2 separate regions of the Homo sapiens genome follow, and region 1 is linked to region 2. Evidence: fine-mapped expression QTL. Tissue or cell type: tibial nerve. Region 2 holds a variant in brackets; the other region holds the start of a gene. All regions are shown on one strand. Distances are between the middles of the regions.

Evidence for each region. PIP is the estimated chance that this variant, and not a neighbour inherited with it, causes the effect.
Region 1: HACD3 starts here. The variant in region 2 is fine-mapped to the expression of HACD3 in tibial nerve (GTEx, PIP 0.93).

The regions. Positions count from the first base shown.
Region 1 is chr15:65,525,791-65,533,790 of GRCh38, forward strand. It overlaps HACD3 (3-hydroxyacyl-CoA dehydratase 3), which reads left to right and starts at 4,673. Exons shown (of 11, transcript NM_016395.4): 1 at 4,673-4,928. The coding sequence starts at 4,842. RefSeq lists an enhancer at 2,997-3,497 and a silencer at 4,536-4,755.
Region 2 is chr15:65,560,864-65,569,127 of GRCh38, forward strand. It overlaps HACD3 (3-hydroxyacyl-CoA dehydratase 3), which reads left to right. Exons shown (of 11, transcript NM_016395.4): 6 at 1,911-2,021; 7 at 3,352-3,479. Among named protein-coding and RNA genes, the nearest start is that of HACD3, 35 kb to the left of the region's middle. The variant G/A (reference allele first, on the strand shown) is at 3,452.

The DNA.
Region 1 (8,000 bases), 35 kb before region 2:
TCAGCCCTGGGAATGAGCTTAATCCATGGCAAGTACTCAGCAAATGCTTCCTGTAGTTAGTGGTGACTATTCTCTGAGAAGGGAGAGCTGGCCCTTGGCCAAATGAGGCTGGGAAGGCTGCATCTAGAAGGTAGGACAAAAAGACAAGGCTAAATTTGCATTTTCATTTGACCGATAGTATCATAAAACTCTTAGCCCTACCTATTTCAGCTTGGCACTGCCACTTGGCTCTGCCTTTTAATCTCCCCTGCCACCTTCCAGCGTATTTTGGTTTGCTTTTTTTTTTTTGAGACAAGGTTTTGCTCTGTTGTCCAGGCTGGAGTGCATCGGTGCCATCACAGTTCACTGCATCTCTGACCTTCCAAGCTTAAGAGATCCTCCCAGCCTCCTTAGTAGCTAGGACTACAGGCACATGCCACCGTACCTGGCTAATTTTTAAAATTTTTTATAGAGATGGGGTCTCACTGTTTTGCCCAGGCTGGTCTCGAACTCTTAAACTCAAGCGATCCTCCCACCTCAGCCTCCCAAAGCATTGGGATTACAGCATAAGCCACCATGTCCAGCCCCACCCTGGAGTTTTATAGTTCACCAGAATGATACTCTTTCTTCTCTCCATTTCTATTTTTTTTCTTGTTAGATTTCTCTTGCAGAGAGGGGTCCATAATAGTGGGGTCTCTTTGCAGAAAAATTTAGAAACAGCTGATAAGAGCATTAGAGGGAACCAAATCCAACTCATCAAATTTACCTAATTTGATGAATGTGGAAACTCAGGCCTAAAGAAGTCATTTTGCAGTATGTTACTAGTGGTCAAACCAGGCTGGATAGGCCCACTTCCACTGGACCTTTCTTATGAAGCATCTGAGGCAAAATGCCAACATTCAGTCTTCTTCTATATCAATAGCTTTCACCTTGGTAGAAGTCAGCTGATAAGCCTCAGGTTTCAAATACGCTGAATTAAAATTATTCTATTTTTTATTACCCACCTACCAGGATGGCTAAAATTAAAAACATTGGCTGGGGGTGGGGGTGGTGCTGGAAAAAAAAAATTAGGCTGGGTGCTGTGGCTCACGCCTGGGAGGCTGCAGCAGGAGGATCACTTGAGCCCAGGAGTTTGAGACCATTTGAGCCTAGAAGTTTGAGACCAGCATGGCCAACATGGTGAAACCCCATCTCTACTAAAAATAAAAAAATTAGCCAGGTGTGGTGGTGCACACCTATAATCCCAGCTACTTGGGAGGCTGAGGTAGGAGAATCATTTGAACTGCGGAGGTAGAAGTTGCAGTGAGCTGAGATCGCGCCAATGCACTCCAGCCTGGGCAACAGAGCAAGACTCTTTCTCAAAAAATAAAATAAAATAAAATAAAATAAAATTAAATTAAAAAGTCTGAAAATACTAGGGATATAGAGCAACTAGAACTTTCAAACATTGCCGTGGAATGTAAATTGACCAAAACACTTTGTAAAACTGCTTAGCACACCTACTAAAGCTAATCATACACCTGTGTAACCTAGCAATTCCCTTCATAGGTATTTATTCCAAGATAATTAAGAGCATTTATCCCCAAAAGACAGGTACACAAATATTCAGAGCAGCTTTATTTGTAATAGCTAAAAACTAGAAACAACACAAATATCCATCGATAGGAGAATGGATAAATAATTTGTGGTATACTCATATAGTCAACTACTACAGAGCAAAACCAAAAACTAAAAGAATGAATTACTGATTCACTCAGCAACATGGATAAATCTCATACACATTATGTTGATGAAAGAAACCAAGGCCCGGTGCGGTGGCTCACATCTGTAATCCCAGCACTTTGGGAGGCTGAAGCGGGTGGATCATGAGGTCAGGAGTTCAAGACTAGCCTGGCCAAGATGGTGAAACCCCGTATCTACTAAAATACAAAAATTAGGGGCCAGGCACGGTGGCTCATGCCTGTAATCCCAGCACTTTGGGAGGCTGAGGCAGGCAGATCACGAGGTCAGGAGTTAGAGACCATCCTGACCAACATGGTGAAACCCCGTCTCTACTAAAAATACAAAAATTAGCTGGGCGTGATGGCGGACAGCTGTAATCCCAGCTACTTGGGAGGCTGAGGCAGGAGAATCGCTTGAATTGGGAGGCCGAGGTTGCAGTGAGCCGAGACTGCACCACTGCACTCCATCCTGGGTGACAGAGCAAGACTCTGTCTCAAAAAAAAAAAAAAGAAAAAAGAAAAAGAAACCAGACACTGTAGGTTCCATTTATATAAAATTCAAGAACAGAACAGACAAAAAAGACTCTATGGTGATATATCAGGATAGTAATTACTGAGAGGCAAAGATATTTTAACATGAAATAACCTCTGGGATACTGGAAATATTCCAGATCTTGATCTAGGTGATAATTACATGGATATATACATATAGAAAAATTCAGCTTAAACTGAATATTTAAGATTTACCCATGTTCTATATGTAAACTACATCTCAATGTTTTTAAAAAGTGCCCCATATTGCATCTGCATTGTAGTAAACACAATACAATAAAATACCTTTATCATAAAAAATATTTTATCGTTAAAATTCAAGACTGTCAACGTCACTGCTTTCATCAACTCATTCTTGGCAGATTGCATTGGTCTCCCATTGCTTTGCCTACTACCAATTCCTCCTCCTCTCTGACAGGTCTTTCTTGCTGAGCACATTTGATTTTACTAATCTCCAGGTTAACAAACTTCCTTGGCTCCCATGTGTCTGTGGGATACAGTATAGGCACCTCAGTGAAGCAAACAAAGACTTTCCTAATGCACCCTCTGCCTTTCCAGATTCAGGGCGACCTCTCTCCTCTATGCCTTTAATCCCTAGCAGCAGAACCTCCTTCCACAACCCTCTCTCTTTTTTAAATTTTAAGACAGGGCCTCACACTGTCACCCAAGCTGGAGTGCAGTGGCGCGATCTCGCCTCCTGGGCTTAAGCAATTCTCCCACCCTAGCCTCCCGAGTAGCTCGGACCCCAGGGGCGCGCCAACCACGCCCTGCTAACTGTTGTATTTTTTGTAGAGACAGTGTATTGCCATTTTTCCCAGGCTGGTCTCAAACTCCTGGGCTCCAGCGATCCTCCCGCCTCGTCCTCCCAAAGTGCTGGGATTACACGCGTGAGACGCTGCACCTGGTCCACATCTTTTCACCTGTGAACGAAGCAAGCGCCCTGTGCTTCCACGGCCTACCTGGTTCTTACTCAGTCAAATTCCTACTCGCATTTCACCATCCCGTTCTCAAGGGTTGGCTCTCAAATGTCTGACAATGGTTCCCACGGCCCTCAGTTCCTATCATCATAAACTCTTTGTGAGCTCAGCACATTCATTATATGAAAACTCTCTATATTTTATTCTGTCCACTCTTGAGCTAAATGTTTCCAGAGAGCTAGCAGAATTTGTTTTCAGCGTTAGATCCCTCTGCTAAACAAACGGGTGCTAATAGAATCACTTTGCTAAATAAATGGGAGCTAACAGGATTGAATATGAGTTCCATTTTTGTCCCAGAGTTCTAGTTTTCATATAAATATTTCTTCCCATTAAATTCTTCTCTGCAGAAGAACTTGGGGATGAAACCCGATACAGACAAGACAGCTTAAGTAAGACATAAATGAGTGTTGTCTCTAGTTTGAGTTTCCTATTTTTTTGAGACAGTCTCCTGCACTGTCCAATAGAATAGCCACCAAAAATATGGATATTTAAGTTTAAATTAGAAGTGAATAAAGTTGGCCGGGCGCGGTGTCTCACGCCTATAATCTCAGCACTTTGGGAGGCCAAGGCGGGCGGATCACCTGAGGTCGGGAGTTCGAGACCAGCCTGACCAACATGGAGAAACCTCGTCTCTACTAAAAATACAAAATTAGCCGGTGGCGCATGCCTGTAATCCCAGCTACTCGGGAGGCTGAGGCAGGAGAATCACTTGAACCCGGGAGACAGAGGTTGCGGTGAGCCGAGATCGCGCCATTGCACTCCAGCCTGGGCAACAAGAGAGAAACTCCGTCTCAAAACAAAACAACAACAACAACAAAAAAAAAACAGAAGTGAGTAAAATTGAAAATTCGGTTATTCAGTTCAAGTACTCAAAAGCCTCATGTGGCTAGTGGCTACCGTATTAAAGAGCGCAATGTGCAATATTTCCATCATCACCTACAGTTTTATTGGGCAGCGCTGCCCTGGTCTTTATTTTCCCTTGTTGGAACGCTCTTCCACGCTGCTCCCACACCATGTCCCCTATCACCATTATTATCCTCATTTCATCTGTAATTACTTGCATCTTTTAATAGGCTGGGAGTTCTAAGACAGAAGGGACTGTGTCTCACTTCTGTTGTTCCAGTGTTTAGCTTTGAAACCCAGGCACACAGTAGGTACTCAGTAAACAGAATGCGAAGGACCGTCCAGAGACACCAGTCCCAAACCCTTTTCCAGGCTGATCGGTCCCCCATAAGTCTCCAGCCTTTTTTATTTTAAAGCTTATTTTAAAGCATGTCCCTGAAGACGAGTGGGGAGAGCAGACCACCCGCTGATTCCAATTCCCTAGGCGGCCGCGGCGAGCTGCGGCGTCTCTGTGCCCCGGCCTGCCCCTATCCCGCCTGCGCCCCGCCCCCGCCCGGCTCGCGCCAAGGCCCGCTGCTGGCGCCGCCGCCATCCCGGCGCGTCACTGCGCAGGCGCGGCCCGCGAGCGTGGGGTATCTCGAGGTGCCGGGTTGCAGGCGCTCAGGAGCGCTAGGGTTTGAGGCCTGCTTTCTGCTCGCGCCAGCAGAGCACTACCTGAGGCAGCGAGGCGCAGCGAGCCTAGCCTCCCCGCGCCCTGGGCAGTGTGGCCATGGAGAATCAGGTGTTGACGCCGCATGTCTACTGGGCTCAGCGACACCGCGAGCTATATCTGCGCGTGGAGCTGAGTGACGTACAGGTAAAGGCCGGGTCGGGCGGCGGGAAGCGCGCGGGATCGCGGCTCCGGGTACCCGCCAGGACCCCTGCCCCCTTTGTCCGCGTGCGCGCCGGAGAGCCTGCAGTGCGCCAACAAGGTCGGCGACGCGGTGCGCTTACGGCGTGCTGGCGCTTTTCGAGGCTCATCTGCAGATCTCGGGCCGGGGGCACAACCCCCCGAGGGCTGCAGGAACCTTCGGGTCCCCAGAGAGCTCGGCCTGGGCCTCTCAGGCTACCCCGGGCCTCTTCTTTGTTCGCAGTCGGCGGCCTTCATGGAGCCCAGGCCCGGCCCTGGCTGCCTGGCCGTCGGGGTTCGAGTTGGCTGGGGCCCTTCGAGATGTGGGATGAGCTTGTTGGGTCAGGGGTGCGGTTGTGACAGCGGCTTGCTGGGCCGTAGCTGAATGCCTGCCGCTGGCCTGAGAGGTCCAGCCAGGCCCCTCGGACGTTACTGAGGCTGGGCGCTGCCGGAGGTGGGGGAGGGGGAGGGGTGGGGGGCCACACCCACCTCGCAACCGTTCAGTGATGGAAATCATTCTCATTACTTTTAATTTTAAAATTCACAAGAGCTGGAGGAAGTGATTTCCCCCTCTGTTCTGAAGGTTGTGAGCTCAGGTTTGCTGAGTTGCACAGAGAACTTAAAAAGTTCTTAAGTTACATTAAGCATTTCTGTTTGAGCTCCTTGGCCCTTAATGTAAGCAAGCTGAAGGCACGTAGTAGTGGAGACTCCAGGACCTGTGTATCCTCATGTCTCTGTCCAAACTAAAGATTCTGGGCTTTGAGAAACTGGAATTTTCATTCTGGAAGGTTCTTTCTTTCTTTCTTTCTTTTTTTTTCTTTTCTTTTTTTTGAGACGGTGTTTCGCTCTTGTCGCCCAGGCTGGAGTGCAATGGCGCGATCTCGGCTCACCGCAACCTCTGCCTCCCGGGTTCAAGGGATTCTCCTGCCTCAGCCTCCCGAGTAGCTGGGATTATAGACGCGTGCCACCATGCCCGGCTAATTTTTGTATTTTTAGTAGCGACAGGGTTTCACCATGTTGGCCAGGCTGGTCTCGAACTTCTGACCTCAGGTGATCCACCCGTCTCGGCCTCCCAAAGTGCTGGGATTACAGGCATGAGCCACCGCGCCCAGCCTCTGGAAGGTTCTTTCTACAGTCATTCTTATTGGAAACTTCTCCTTAACATCTATGGCACTTTGTCATCTCTTTCACTCCATTTAACTCTCTCTGCCTCTGAACAGGCATCTGCTTGGATCACCCGTGGATCCGGTAAAATGTAGGTGCTTTCTGAGTGTCGACTTGAATTTATTGAATTTAATATAATCTTTGCTTCTGGAATATAAACAGTTTTCCTGTTGAAAGATGAAGACAGTAGTGGCCAGAATGCCTTTAAATAGGCTATGACATTGCATGGTGTGTCGTTTAATGTGTTCATCCAGACTGAGGCTATACTTTTGGGTCAGAGTATGAGTAAATGTTCTGTGCTGTCTCCCTCTACTGCTCCACGGTGGTTTAATAGAATAGGAAAAAACAAACAAAATCTTTTGTAGATGGGGATCAAAGTCCCCGTCTAGAGAGGGTTCTTCCAGCAGTCAATAAAAAAGTACGGAACAGGCCAGGTGCTGTGGCTCACGCCTGTAATGCCAACACTTTGGGAGGCCGAGGCGGGAGGATCACCTGAGGTCAGGAGTTCGACACCAGCCTGACCAACATGGAGAAACCCCATCTCTACTAAAAATACAAAATTAGCCGGGCATGGTGGTGCATGCGTGTAATTCACTATGTTGGCTACTCGGGAGGCTGAGGCAGGAGAATTGCTTGAACCCGGGAGGCGGAGGTTGCGGTGAGCTGAGATGGTGCCATTGCACTCCAGCCTGGGCAACAAGAGTGAAACTCTGTCTCAAAAAAAAAAAAAAAAAAGTAACCATCTAAAAATTTTTGGGGAAAAATAAATCATTTTTCCCCCTTATTGAGTTTTTGTTTTCTCTGGGGTTTCACATCTGTAGTTTTGAGGCACCCATATTTCAACTACCATTAGTTTAAAAGCATGATGTTACCCTCATAAAAGAGTGTTTACATGTGTTAGCAATCCTCTAACACATGTAAGGTAGTACAGATTTACAAAGGTGAGTCAGACCCAGCTTTTCAAGGGCATGCTATCTAGAAGGAGGCGTATCATATACAAACAAAAAGTTTTGTGTAGGAGTATGTTTATTGGTAGAATTGGAGTTGGATGTTGAACCAGGTATCTGGTGTTAAAGGAATTTGTTACCTTTCTTTCATTTAGTTAGTGATGACTTCCAGAAATGAGAATTATTTTTGTCAAACTAAGACTGGGAGAATGTTCCAGAAAGAGAAAGGCATAGACTTTTAGACACTTGTAATCTCTGACTTAAGCCGTGTCAATGCCCAAAGGCCACCAATAACACACCCGTAGTTAAACAAGTTGGGTTTATTACTCATTGCATTGAGAGAGCATACTCCATGGGGAACCCTGGGGTGTTTCATTAGGAGGGTGTTAGAACTGATTATAGGATTTGGGTGTTGGTGATTAGGGGAGGGGAGGGTTAAGGAGGTTGGGTTTCACTTCAGATAAGATCCTGTAAGAAAATATGGGAGTTTCGTGGTTGGGTATCTGAATAAATCTTACCTGTAGGGCAGGGAGACTAGTATAAGAACAAAACTGTAATTGCTACAGGAGTAGCAGTCACTCAATTTGGCCAAAGGGTGTTTGGTATTTCGTGAGTGGCATAGCCACTATGTATTTGTCTGTGCTTATAACAAAATTGTGAAATGGCCTTTGTCTCATTTTATGAGGATTTCAGAGTAACCTTGTCTGAGGTTGGTATTCTGTGAGATTGTTTATGTCCCATAGGAGAATAACATGGCCTGGCTGTGAGTGCTATGCCTGCTTCTGGAGTGTCACGGGTTGCCTTTTTTTTTTCTTTCTCAACTGATTGCTCTATGCAGGGCCTGTTGAAACCAGTGGTTTTACATGTGCAGATTTGTTATTTAAAAAAAAAAAAAAGAAAGAAAAGCAGCCGGGTGTGGTGGCTCATG
Region 2 (8,264 bases):
CCTACTTCTCCAGCCTAATGTCGTTTTTTCACCTTGAAAGTTTCACAAGACATTACTTGTTACTCCCCACCTGGTATTACAGTTTTTAGATTGTAAGCTCTGAGGGCAGCCTTGAACTACCTTTGTATCCCAGTAGTTCTTCTCACAGTACCTTGCACATTGTAGGTATTCAGTTAATGCTTGGTTGAGTGAATATATAACCAAATATCAGGGTTGTTTTTTTCATTTACTGTATCTGTCTCTTTGAGCTAGTTTGACCTCAGTGACCTTAAAGAAATTCCAGAAAAGAAGAAACTATGGATTATATTAAGATGACTGGAGGGCCAGGCACGGTGGCTCATGCCTGTAATCCCAGCACTTTGGGAGGCCAAGGTGGGCAGATCACCTGAGGTTAGGAGTTTAAGACCACCCTGGCCAACATGATGAAACCCTGTCTCTGCTAAAATACAAAAATTAGCCGGGCGTGGTGGCGGAAGCCTGTAATCTCAGCTACTCGGGAGGCTGAGGCAGGAGAATTGCTTGAACCTGGGAGGTGGAGCGTGCAGTGAGCCGAGATTGTGCCACTGCACTCCAGCCTGGGTGACAGAGCAAGACTCTGTCTCAAAAAAAAAAGAAAAAAAAAATTGAGCCGGAGCTGAGGAAATCTTTATTTCCTTTTTGTAATGCCTCTTCAGATGGCCACTCATTTTTTTGCCAGGTGTTATGGAAAAAATACAACACTACAACACTCAACTGCTTTTTCCTATTTTCTTACTCAACAACAATCAACACAGAAGACTTCTGTGACCAAGTGGGTGGGTTTTTTCCCCCACATACCAAGCAAGCAATGAGTTCTGCAGCAGACACCAGCTGGGTGCCCTCTGGTTCAATTCTGACACTGTTTACCTAGAGATAGCATCAGGTTCCCACAGATGGAGGGCTCAGTCCCCAAGACACACCCCTGCCCCCAGCCTGTCCCGAGTCTGAACCTCCAGAACTTGTGACCAATAGGCTGTAAATTACGGTTCCCACAACCCGCTCCTGTGGTTTGATTGATTTGCTAGCGTGGCTCCACAGAACTCAGGGAAACACATTTGTTCATTTATTATAAGGGATATTATGAAGGATACAGATGAAGAGATTAGGAGGAAGTATGGAGGAAGTGGCGCGGAGCTTCCATGCCCTCCCCAGGTGTGCCACCCTCCAGGAACCTCCGTGTGTTCAGCTGTCTGGAAGCTGACTAAACCCTGTCCCCTTGGGCCTTTTATGGAGACTTCATCGGATAGGCATGACTGAAGCGTGTTGAACTGTGTTGAAATGTGATTGGACAAAAAGGGTCTGACCTAAACCCAGCAAGGCCTGTCTGTCCAGATTCTTCTCAGCCTCTCTGTGCAGTGTTCCCTCCTCCAGAGTATGAGGCAAGACCCTCTCTGGAATGAGGGTCTTAGGACCCACAATCAGATTAGAGTCGTGCCTTGGGCAGCTGAAAGGAAGGCAGGGAAGGTCATAGAGGGAGATTCTGTTGTCTGAGGCCTAAAGTGTCCCAACATTATAACAAAAAACTGTAACAAGGGCTGTGGGAGTTATAAGCCAGAAACCGTTGCCGAAAACCTATATATACATATACACATATCATAATATCACACCAGGGGTAATATTTTTTTCTTGGGTTTGTTATGTCTGTATACCTATTCTTCAAGGCTGGGAAAGGAAGTCCTGCTGAAAATACATGCTGGAGAGCAATGTTCCTTGTATGTTTCTCTGTGGGAGTAGGAGCCCAGGCTGGTGAGGACCTGGACCAGGTATTTGTGTGGGAGCTTAGGAGCATTCAGGAAGGAAAAAGGGTTGAAGTCATCCAGATATGCCTCATACACCTGTCTCCTGCTGGGACTATTGCTTTTAATAGCTTACTGCTTTGCTTTGCTTTACAGCTCTTACAAACTTAAGGAAAGGATACCTGTTTATGTATAATCTTGTGCAATTCTTGGGATTCTCCTGGATCTTTGTCAACCTGACTGTGCGATTCTGTATCTTGGGAAAAGGCAAGTAAGACATTTTTGGATTAATTTTCCCTTTCTCAGTAGTTTGGCCCAGTATTCACCAAAGGGAGCACTCTCTGCCTTTGATGTTAATAATAACCCCTGCATTTGTGCAGCACCCTCTACTTTTCGTTGTGCTTTCATAGCTCTTATTTCCCATGGCCTTGTGAAATAAGCTGACTGGTATTCTTTCCATATAACAGGTAATAAAATATAGGCCTAGAGATGGTCAAAAATGGTTCACATCCATAGCTAGCCAGAGCCACATCTTGGGCTAGAATCCTTTTGTAAAAATGTTCACTAACAACTAAATAAATTGATGTGATACTTCCAGTGCCAAAGTTATGCAAGGCCAAAAGGGTTCTCACCCTTTTGGAGCCTAAATACGTTCTAAAATGAACTATTCTAAAACAGAATAAAAAGAGCATCATAAAGATATTAGTTCTTCTTAAATTAATTTATGTGTTTAGCAGGATTCTGGCTTTGACCAGTGGCATTCCATTGGTAAATGCCAATGGGAAATTTTTGAGAATTTGATCTAAAGTATTCTGAAACTTTATTTGATGAATAAATAGGTAATAAAATTTAGGAGAAGAAAGATTAATGGGAGAGGATTTTTCTACCTGATAATGAAAGTATGGACCAGGTGTAGTAGCTCATACCTGTAATCCCAGCACTTTAACAGGCTGAAGTGGAAGGATCTCTTGCGCCCAGGAGGTTGAAGCTGCAGTAAGCCGTGATCATGACACTGTACTCTAGACTGGGTGATGGAGCAAGACCTTGACTCTTAAAAAAATTTAGAAAGGTGGCTGTGCGTGGTGGCTCACGCCTGTAATCCCAGTACTTTGGGAGGTCTAGGTGGGCAGATCACGAGGTCAAGAGATCGAGACCATCCTGGTCAACATGGTGAAACCCCCATCTCTACTAAAATTACAAAAATTAGCTGGGCATGGTGGTGCGTGCCTGTAGTCCCAGCTACTCGGGAGGCTGAGGCAGGAGAATCACTTGAACCCAGGAGGCGGGGGTTGCAGTGAGCCAAGATCGTGCCACTGCACTGCAGCCTGGTGACAGAGTAAGACTCCATCTCAAAAAAAAAAAAGAGAAAGGCATATAAGGTGTACGTGTTAACTTTCTGGTAACTGGTAGAGCTTACTATTCATGACCCCATTGGCCTGCACCCTTCCTGCTTAGTTAAGTAAGAAACTTGAATCTGACTGGATGTTTGTTATTCCTTTCTTACAGTTATTTTCACGAAAGGAGTAATCTAGTTTGAGAAATAGTTCTGTTGGAATTTACCAACTGATTCACCCTTAATGTATATTTTTGCCTATAGAGTCCTTTTATGACACATTCCATACTGTGGCTGACATGATGTATTTCTGCCAGATGCTGGCAGTTGTGGAAACTATCAATGCAGCAATTGGAGTCACTAC[G/A]TCACCGGTGCTGCCTTCTCTGATCCAGGTATTGAATAGTTAAGCTGAAGGGTGGGTAATGGAAGGTCCCATTATTTGTCTAGTGGGTATGTGTATTAGTCCATTTTCATGCTGCTCATAAAGACATACCTGAGACTGGGCAGTTTACAAAAGAAAGAGGTTTAATTGGACTTACAGTTCCATGTGGCTGGGAAGGTCTCACGATCATGGTGGAGGGCGAAAGGCACTTCTTACGTGGTGGCGGCAAGAGAGAATGAGGAAGAAGCAAAAGCAGAAACTCCTGATAAACCCATCAGATCTCGTGAGACTTATTCACTATCCTGAGAATAGCATGGGAAAGACCGGCCGCACTGATTCATTTACCTCCCCCTAGGTCCCTGCCACAACACGTGGGAATCCTGGGAGATACAATTAAAGTTGAAATTTGAATGGGGACACAGCCAAACCATATCATTCTAGCCGTGGCCCCTCCAAATCTCATACCCTCACATTTCAAAACCAATCATGCCTTCTCAACAGTCCCCCAAAGTCTTATTTCAGCATTAACCCCAAAGTCCACAGTCCAAAGTCTCATCTGAGACAAGGCAAGTCCCTTCTGCCTTTGAGCCTGTAAAATCAAAGCACACTAGTTACTTCCTAGATACAAGGGGAGTACTGGCATTGGGTAAATACAGCCGTTCCAAATGGGAGAAATTGGCCAAAATAAAGGGGTTACAGTGCCCATGCAAGTCTGAAATCCAGTGGGGCGGTCAAACTTTAAAGCTCCAAAATGATCTCCTTTGACTCCAGGTCTCACATCCAGGTCACGCTGATGCAAAAGGTGGGTTCCCATGGTCTTAGGCAGCTCCACTCCTGTGACTTTGCAGGGAGCAGCCTCCCTCCCGGCTGCTTTCACCGGCTGGCATTGAGTGTCTGCAGCTTTTCCAGGTGCATGGTGCAAGCTGTCAGTGGATCTACCACTTTGGGGTCTGGAGGATGGCGGCCTCTTCTCACAGCTCCACTAGGCAGTGCCCCAGTAGGGATTCTGTGTGGGGGCTCCAACCCCATGTTTCCCTTCCTCACTGCCCTAGCAGAGGTTCTCCATGAGGGCCCCATCCCTGCAGCAAACTTTTGCCTGGGCATCCAGGCATTTCCATACATCTTCTGAAATCTGGGCGGAGGTTTCCAAACCTCAATTCTTGACTTCTCTGCACCCACAGGCTCACCACCACGTGGAAGCTGCCAAGGCTTGGGGCTTGCACCCTCTGAAGCCACAGCCTGAGCTGTACATTGGCCCCTCTCAGCCAAGGCTGGAGCAGCTGGGACACAGGGCACCAAATCCCTAGGTTGCACACAGCACAGGGACCCTGGGCCTCCGCGCCTGTGATGGGAGGGACTGCCATGAAGGCCTCTGACATGGTCTGGTTACATTTTCCCCATGGTCTTGGGGATTACATTGGGGATTACGTTAGGCTCCTTGCTACTTGTGCAAATTTCTGCAGCCAGCTTGAGGTTCTCCTCAAAAAATGGGTTTTTCTTTTCTACTGAATCATCAGGCTGCAAATTTTCCAAACTTTTATGCTGTTTCTCTTTTAAAACGGAATGCTTTTAACAGCACCCAAGTCACCTCTTGAATGCTTTTCTGCTTAGAAATTTCTCCTGCCAGATACCCTAAATCATCTCTCTCAAGTTCAGAGTTCTACAGATCTCTAGGGCAGGGGCAAAATGCTGCCAGTCTCTTTGCTAAAATATAACAAGAGTCACCTTTGCTCCAGTTCACCTTTGCTTCCAAGAGGTTCTTCATCTCCATCTGAGACTACCTCAGCCTGGACTTTATTGTTCATATCACTATCAGCATTTTTGTCGAAGCCATTCAACAAATCTCTACGAGGTTCCAAACTTACCTACATTTTCCTATCTTCTTCTGAGCCCTCCAAACTGTTCCAACCTCTGTCTGTTACCCAGTTCCAAGGTCACTTCCACATTTTCGGGTATCTTTTCAGCAACATCCAACTTTACTGGTACCAATTTACTGTATTAGTCCGTTTTCCCACTGCTGATAAAGACATACCTGAAACCAGGCCGTTTACAAAAGAAAGAGGTTTAATTGGATTTACAGTTCCATGTGGCGGGGGAAGGTCTCACAATTGTGGTGCAGGGCAAAAGGCACTTCTTACATGGCGGTGGCAAGAGAGAATGAGGAAGAAACAAAAGCGGAAACCCCTGATAAGCCCGCCAGATCTTGTGAGACTTATTTACTAACATGGGAATAGCACGGGAAGACCAGCCCCCATGATTCAGTTACCTCCCCCTGGGTCCCTTCCACAACATGTGGGAATTCTAGGAGATACAATTCAAGCTGACATTTGAATGGGGACACAGCCAAACCATATCTGTATGTTACATTTTGCTAAGAAGTCTCAATTAGTAAAAACACCTATTTGTACAGGAATAGCATTATTTTACCTGAACAAGAAAGAACATTTAAAACCCCAGGGTTATTTACCAAAGTAGACTTTTACTATTTCAGGTCTTTTTCATTTTTTATAATATCCTTATGAAATCACAAAGTTATAAAGAGCTTTAAGACTAGGGAAATTTGACTCTTAGGCAGGAGCTGAAAAACCTACCTTCAGTCTCCTTAGTTAGAAATGTATGTGGTCTCCTCCCACCTTGTGTAGATGAAGGCAGTACTTCTTAAAAACTTGTATTAATGAAAAGTACAATAATCAAACTTTAAAATTTACAGCCAGGCATGGTGGCTCATTCCTGTAATCCCCATACTTTGGGAAGCTGAGGTAGGAGGATTGCTTGAGGCCAGCAGTTGGAGACCACCCTTGGCAGCATAGTGAGACCCCATTTCTAAAAAAATAAAAATTTGCCAGGCATGGTGATGTGCACCTATATTCCCACTACTTGGGAGGCTGAGACGGAAGGATTCCTTGAGTGCAGGAGTTCGATGTTGCAGTGAGCTGGGATTGTGCCACTGCCCTCCAACCTGGGCAGCAGAGCGAGACCCCTGTCTCTAAAAAAAATAAAAAATAAAAATTTAATGGATAGTTTGTGTTGTAGATTAGACATAGCTGAAGAGAAAATTAGTGAACTGTTTTGAGATACAGGAAGGAATAGAGAGCACAAAAAGTAAATATACAGACGTAATTTTCTTGAATTATAAGACTCAATATTATAATATTGTTAGTTCTCATATTTCCCTGTAGATTCAATACATTTCCAATCACAATCTAAAAAATTTTGGAATGTGAGGAGAAAATTCTGAAGCTTTTTGAAAAAACAGAGGGCCATCCAGGATAGTAGCATCATTTTCGATAACTAAAATGTGCAAGCAACCCAAGTGTTCATCTACAGATGAATGGATAAGAATGACTGTTACATACATACAATGGGATATTATGTAGCCTTAAAAATGAAAGAAATTCTCTCGTATGCTACAATGTGGATGAACCTTAAGGAAACTATGCTAAGTGAAATAAGCCAGTCACAGAAAGTCAAATACTAGATGATTCTGCTTACATGGGGTACTTAAAATAGTCAAAACCATAGAGACAGAAAGTAGGATGGTGTTTGCCAGGGGCTGGCTGAATGGGGAGTTATTGTTTAATGGGTCATAGTTTCTTTCTTTTTTTTTTTTTTGAGAGTCTCGCCCTGTCGCCCAAGCTGGAGTGCAGTGGCACAATCTAGGCTCACTGCAGCCCCTGCCTCCTGGGTTCACGCAATTCTCCTACCTCAGCCTCCCGAGTAGCTAGGAATACAGGTGCCCATCACCACGCCCAGCTAATTTTTGTAGTTTTAGTAGAGATGGGGTTTCCCATGTTGGCCAGGCTGGTCTCGAACTCCTGACCCCAGGTGATCTACCCGCCTCGGCCTTCCAAAGTGCTGGGATTACAGACGTGAGCCACCGTGCCCGGCAATGGGTCATAGTTTCTATTTTACAAGATGAAAAGAGTTGTGGAGATGGATGGTGATTATGGTTGCACAACATAATGAAGGTATTTGATACCACTCAACTAAACACTTAAAAAATGATTAAGATGGTAAAGTTTATGTTATGTGTATTTTTTTTTTTTCAGATGGTGTTTCACTGTCACCCAGGCTGGAGTGCAGTGGTGTGACCTTGGCTCACTGCAACCTCGGCCTCCCACGTTCAAGCGATTCTCCTACCTCAGCCTCCCGAGTAGCTGGGACTACAGGCATCTGCCACCACGCCTGGCTAATTTTTGTATTTTTAATAGAGATGGGGTTTCACCATGTTGTCCAGTCTGGTCTTGAACTCCTGACCTCAAATGATCTGCCAGCCTCGGCCTCCCAAAGTGCTGGGATTACAGGCATGAGCCACCGCACCCAGCCATTATGTGTATTTTACCACAATTTTTAAAATGGGAAAAAGAAAAAAGCAAAAGGTCGAGAATATTCTTTAAAGACGAGCTCAAATTGGGGACTTACCCTATAAAAAATCAAGACAGTATAAAGATTTAGTAGCTAATACCACGTTGTATGGTACAAAGATAGTCACACAGACCACGGGAACAGAATAAAACCCAGAAACAGACAACCCAGATATCTATGAAGAATAGAATGTCTATCATATATTGGAATGTCTTGCCACGTGAAAATGAGTGGACTATAGCCACATGCATCAACATAGATGAGTCTTGGCCGGGCGCGGTGGCTCATGCCTGTAATCCCAGCACTTTGGGAGGCCGAGGCGGGTGGATCACAAGGTCAGGAGATCGAGACCATCCTGGCTAACATGGTGAAACCCCGTCTCTACTAAAAAATAGAAAAAATTAGCTGAGCGTGGTGGCGGGCGCCTGTA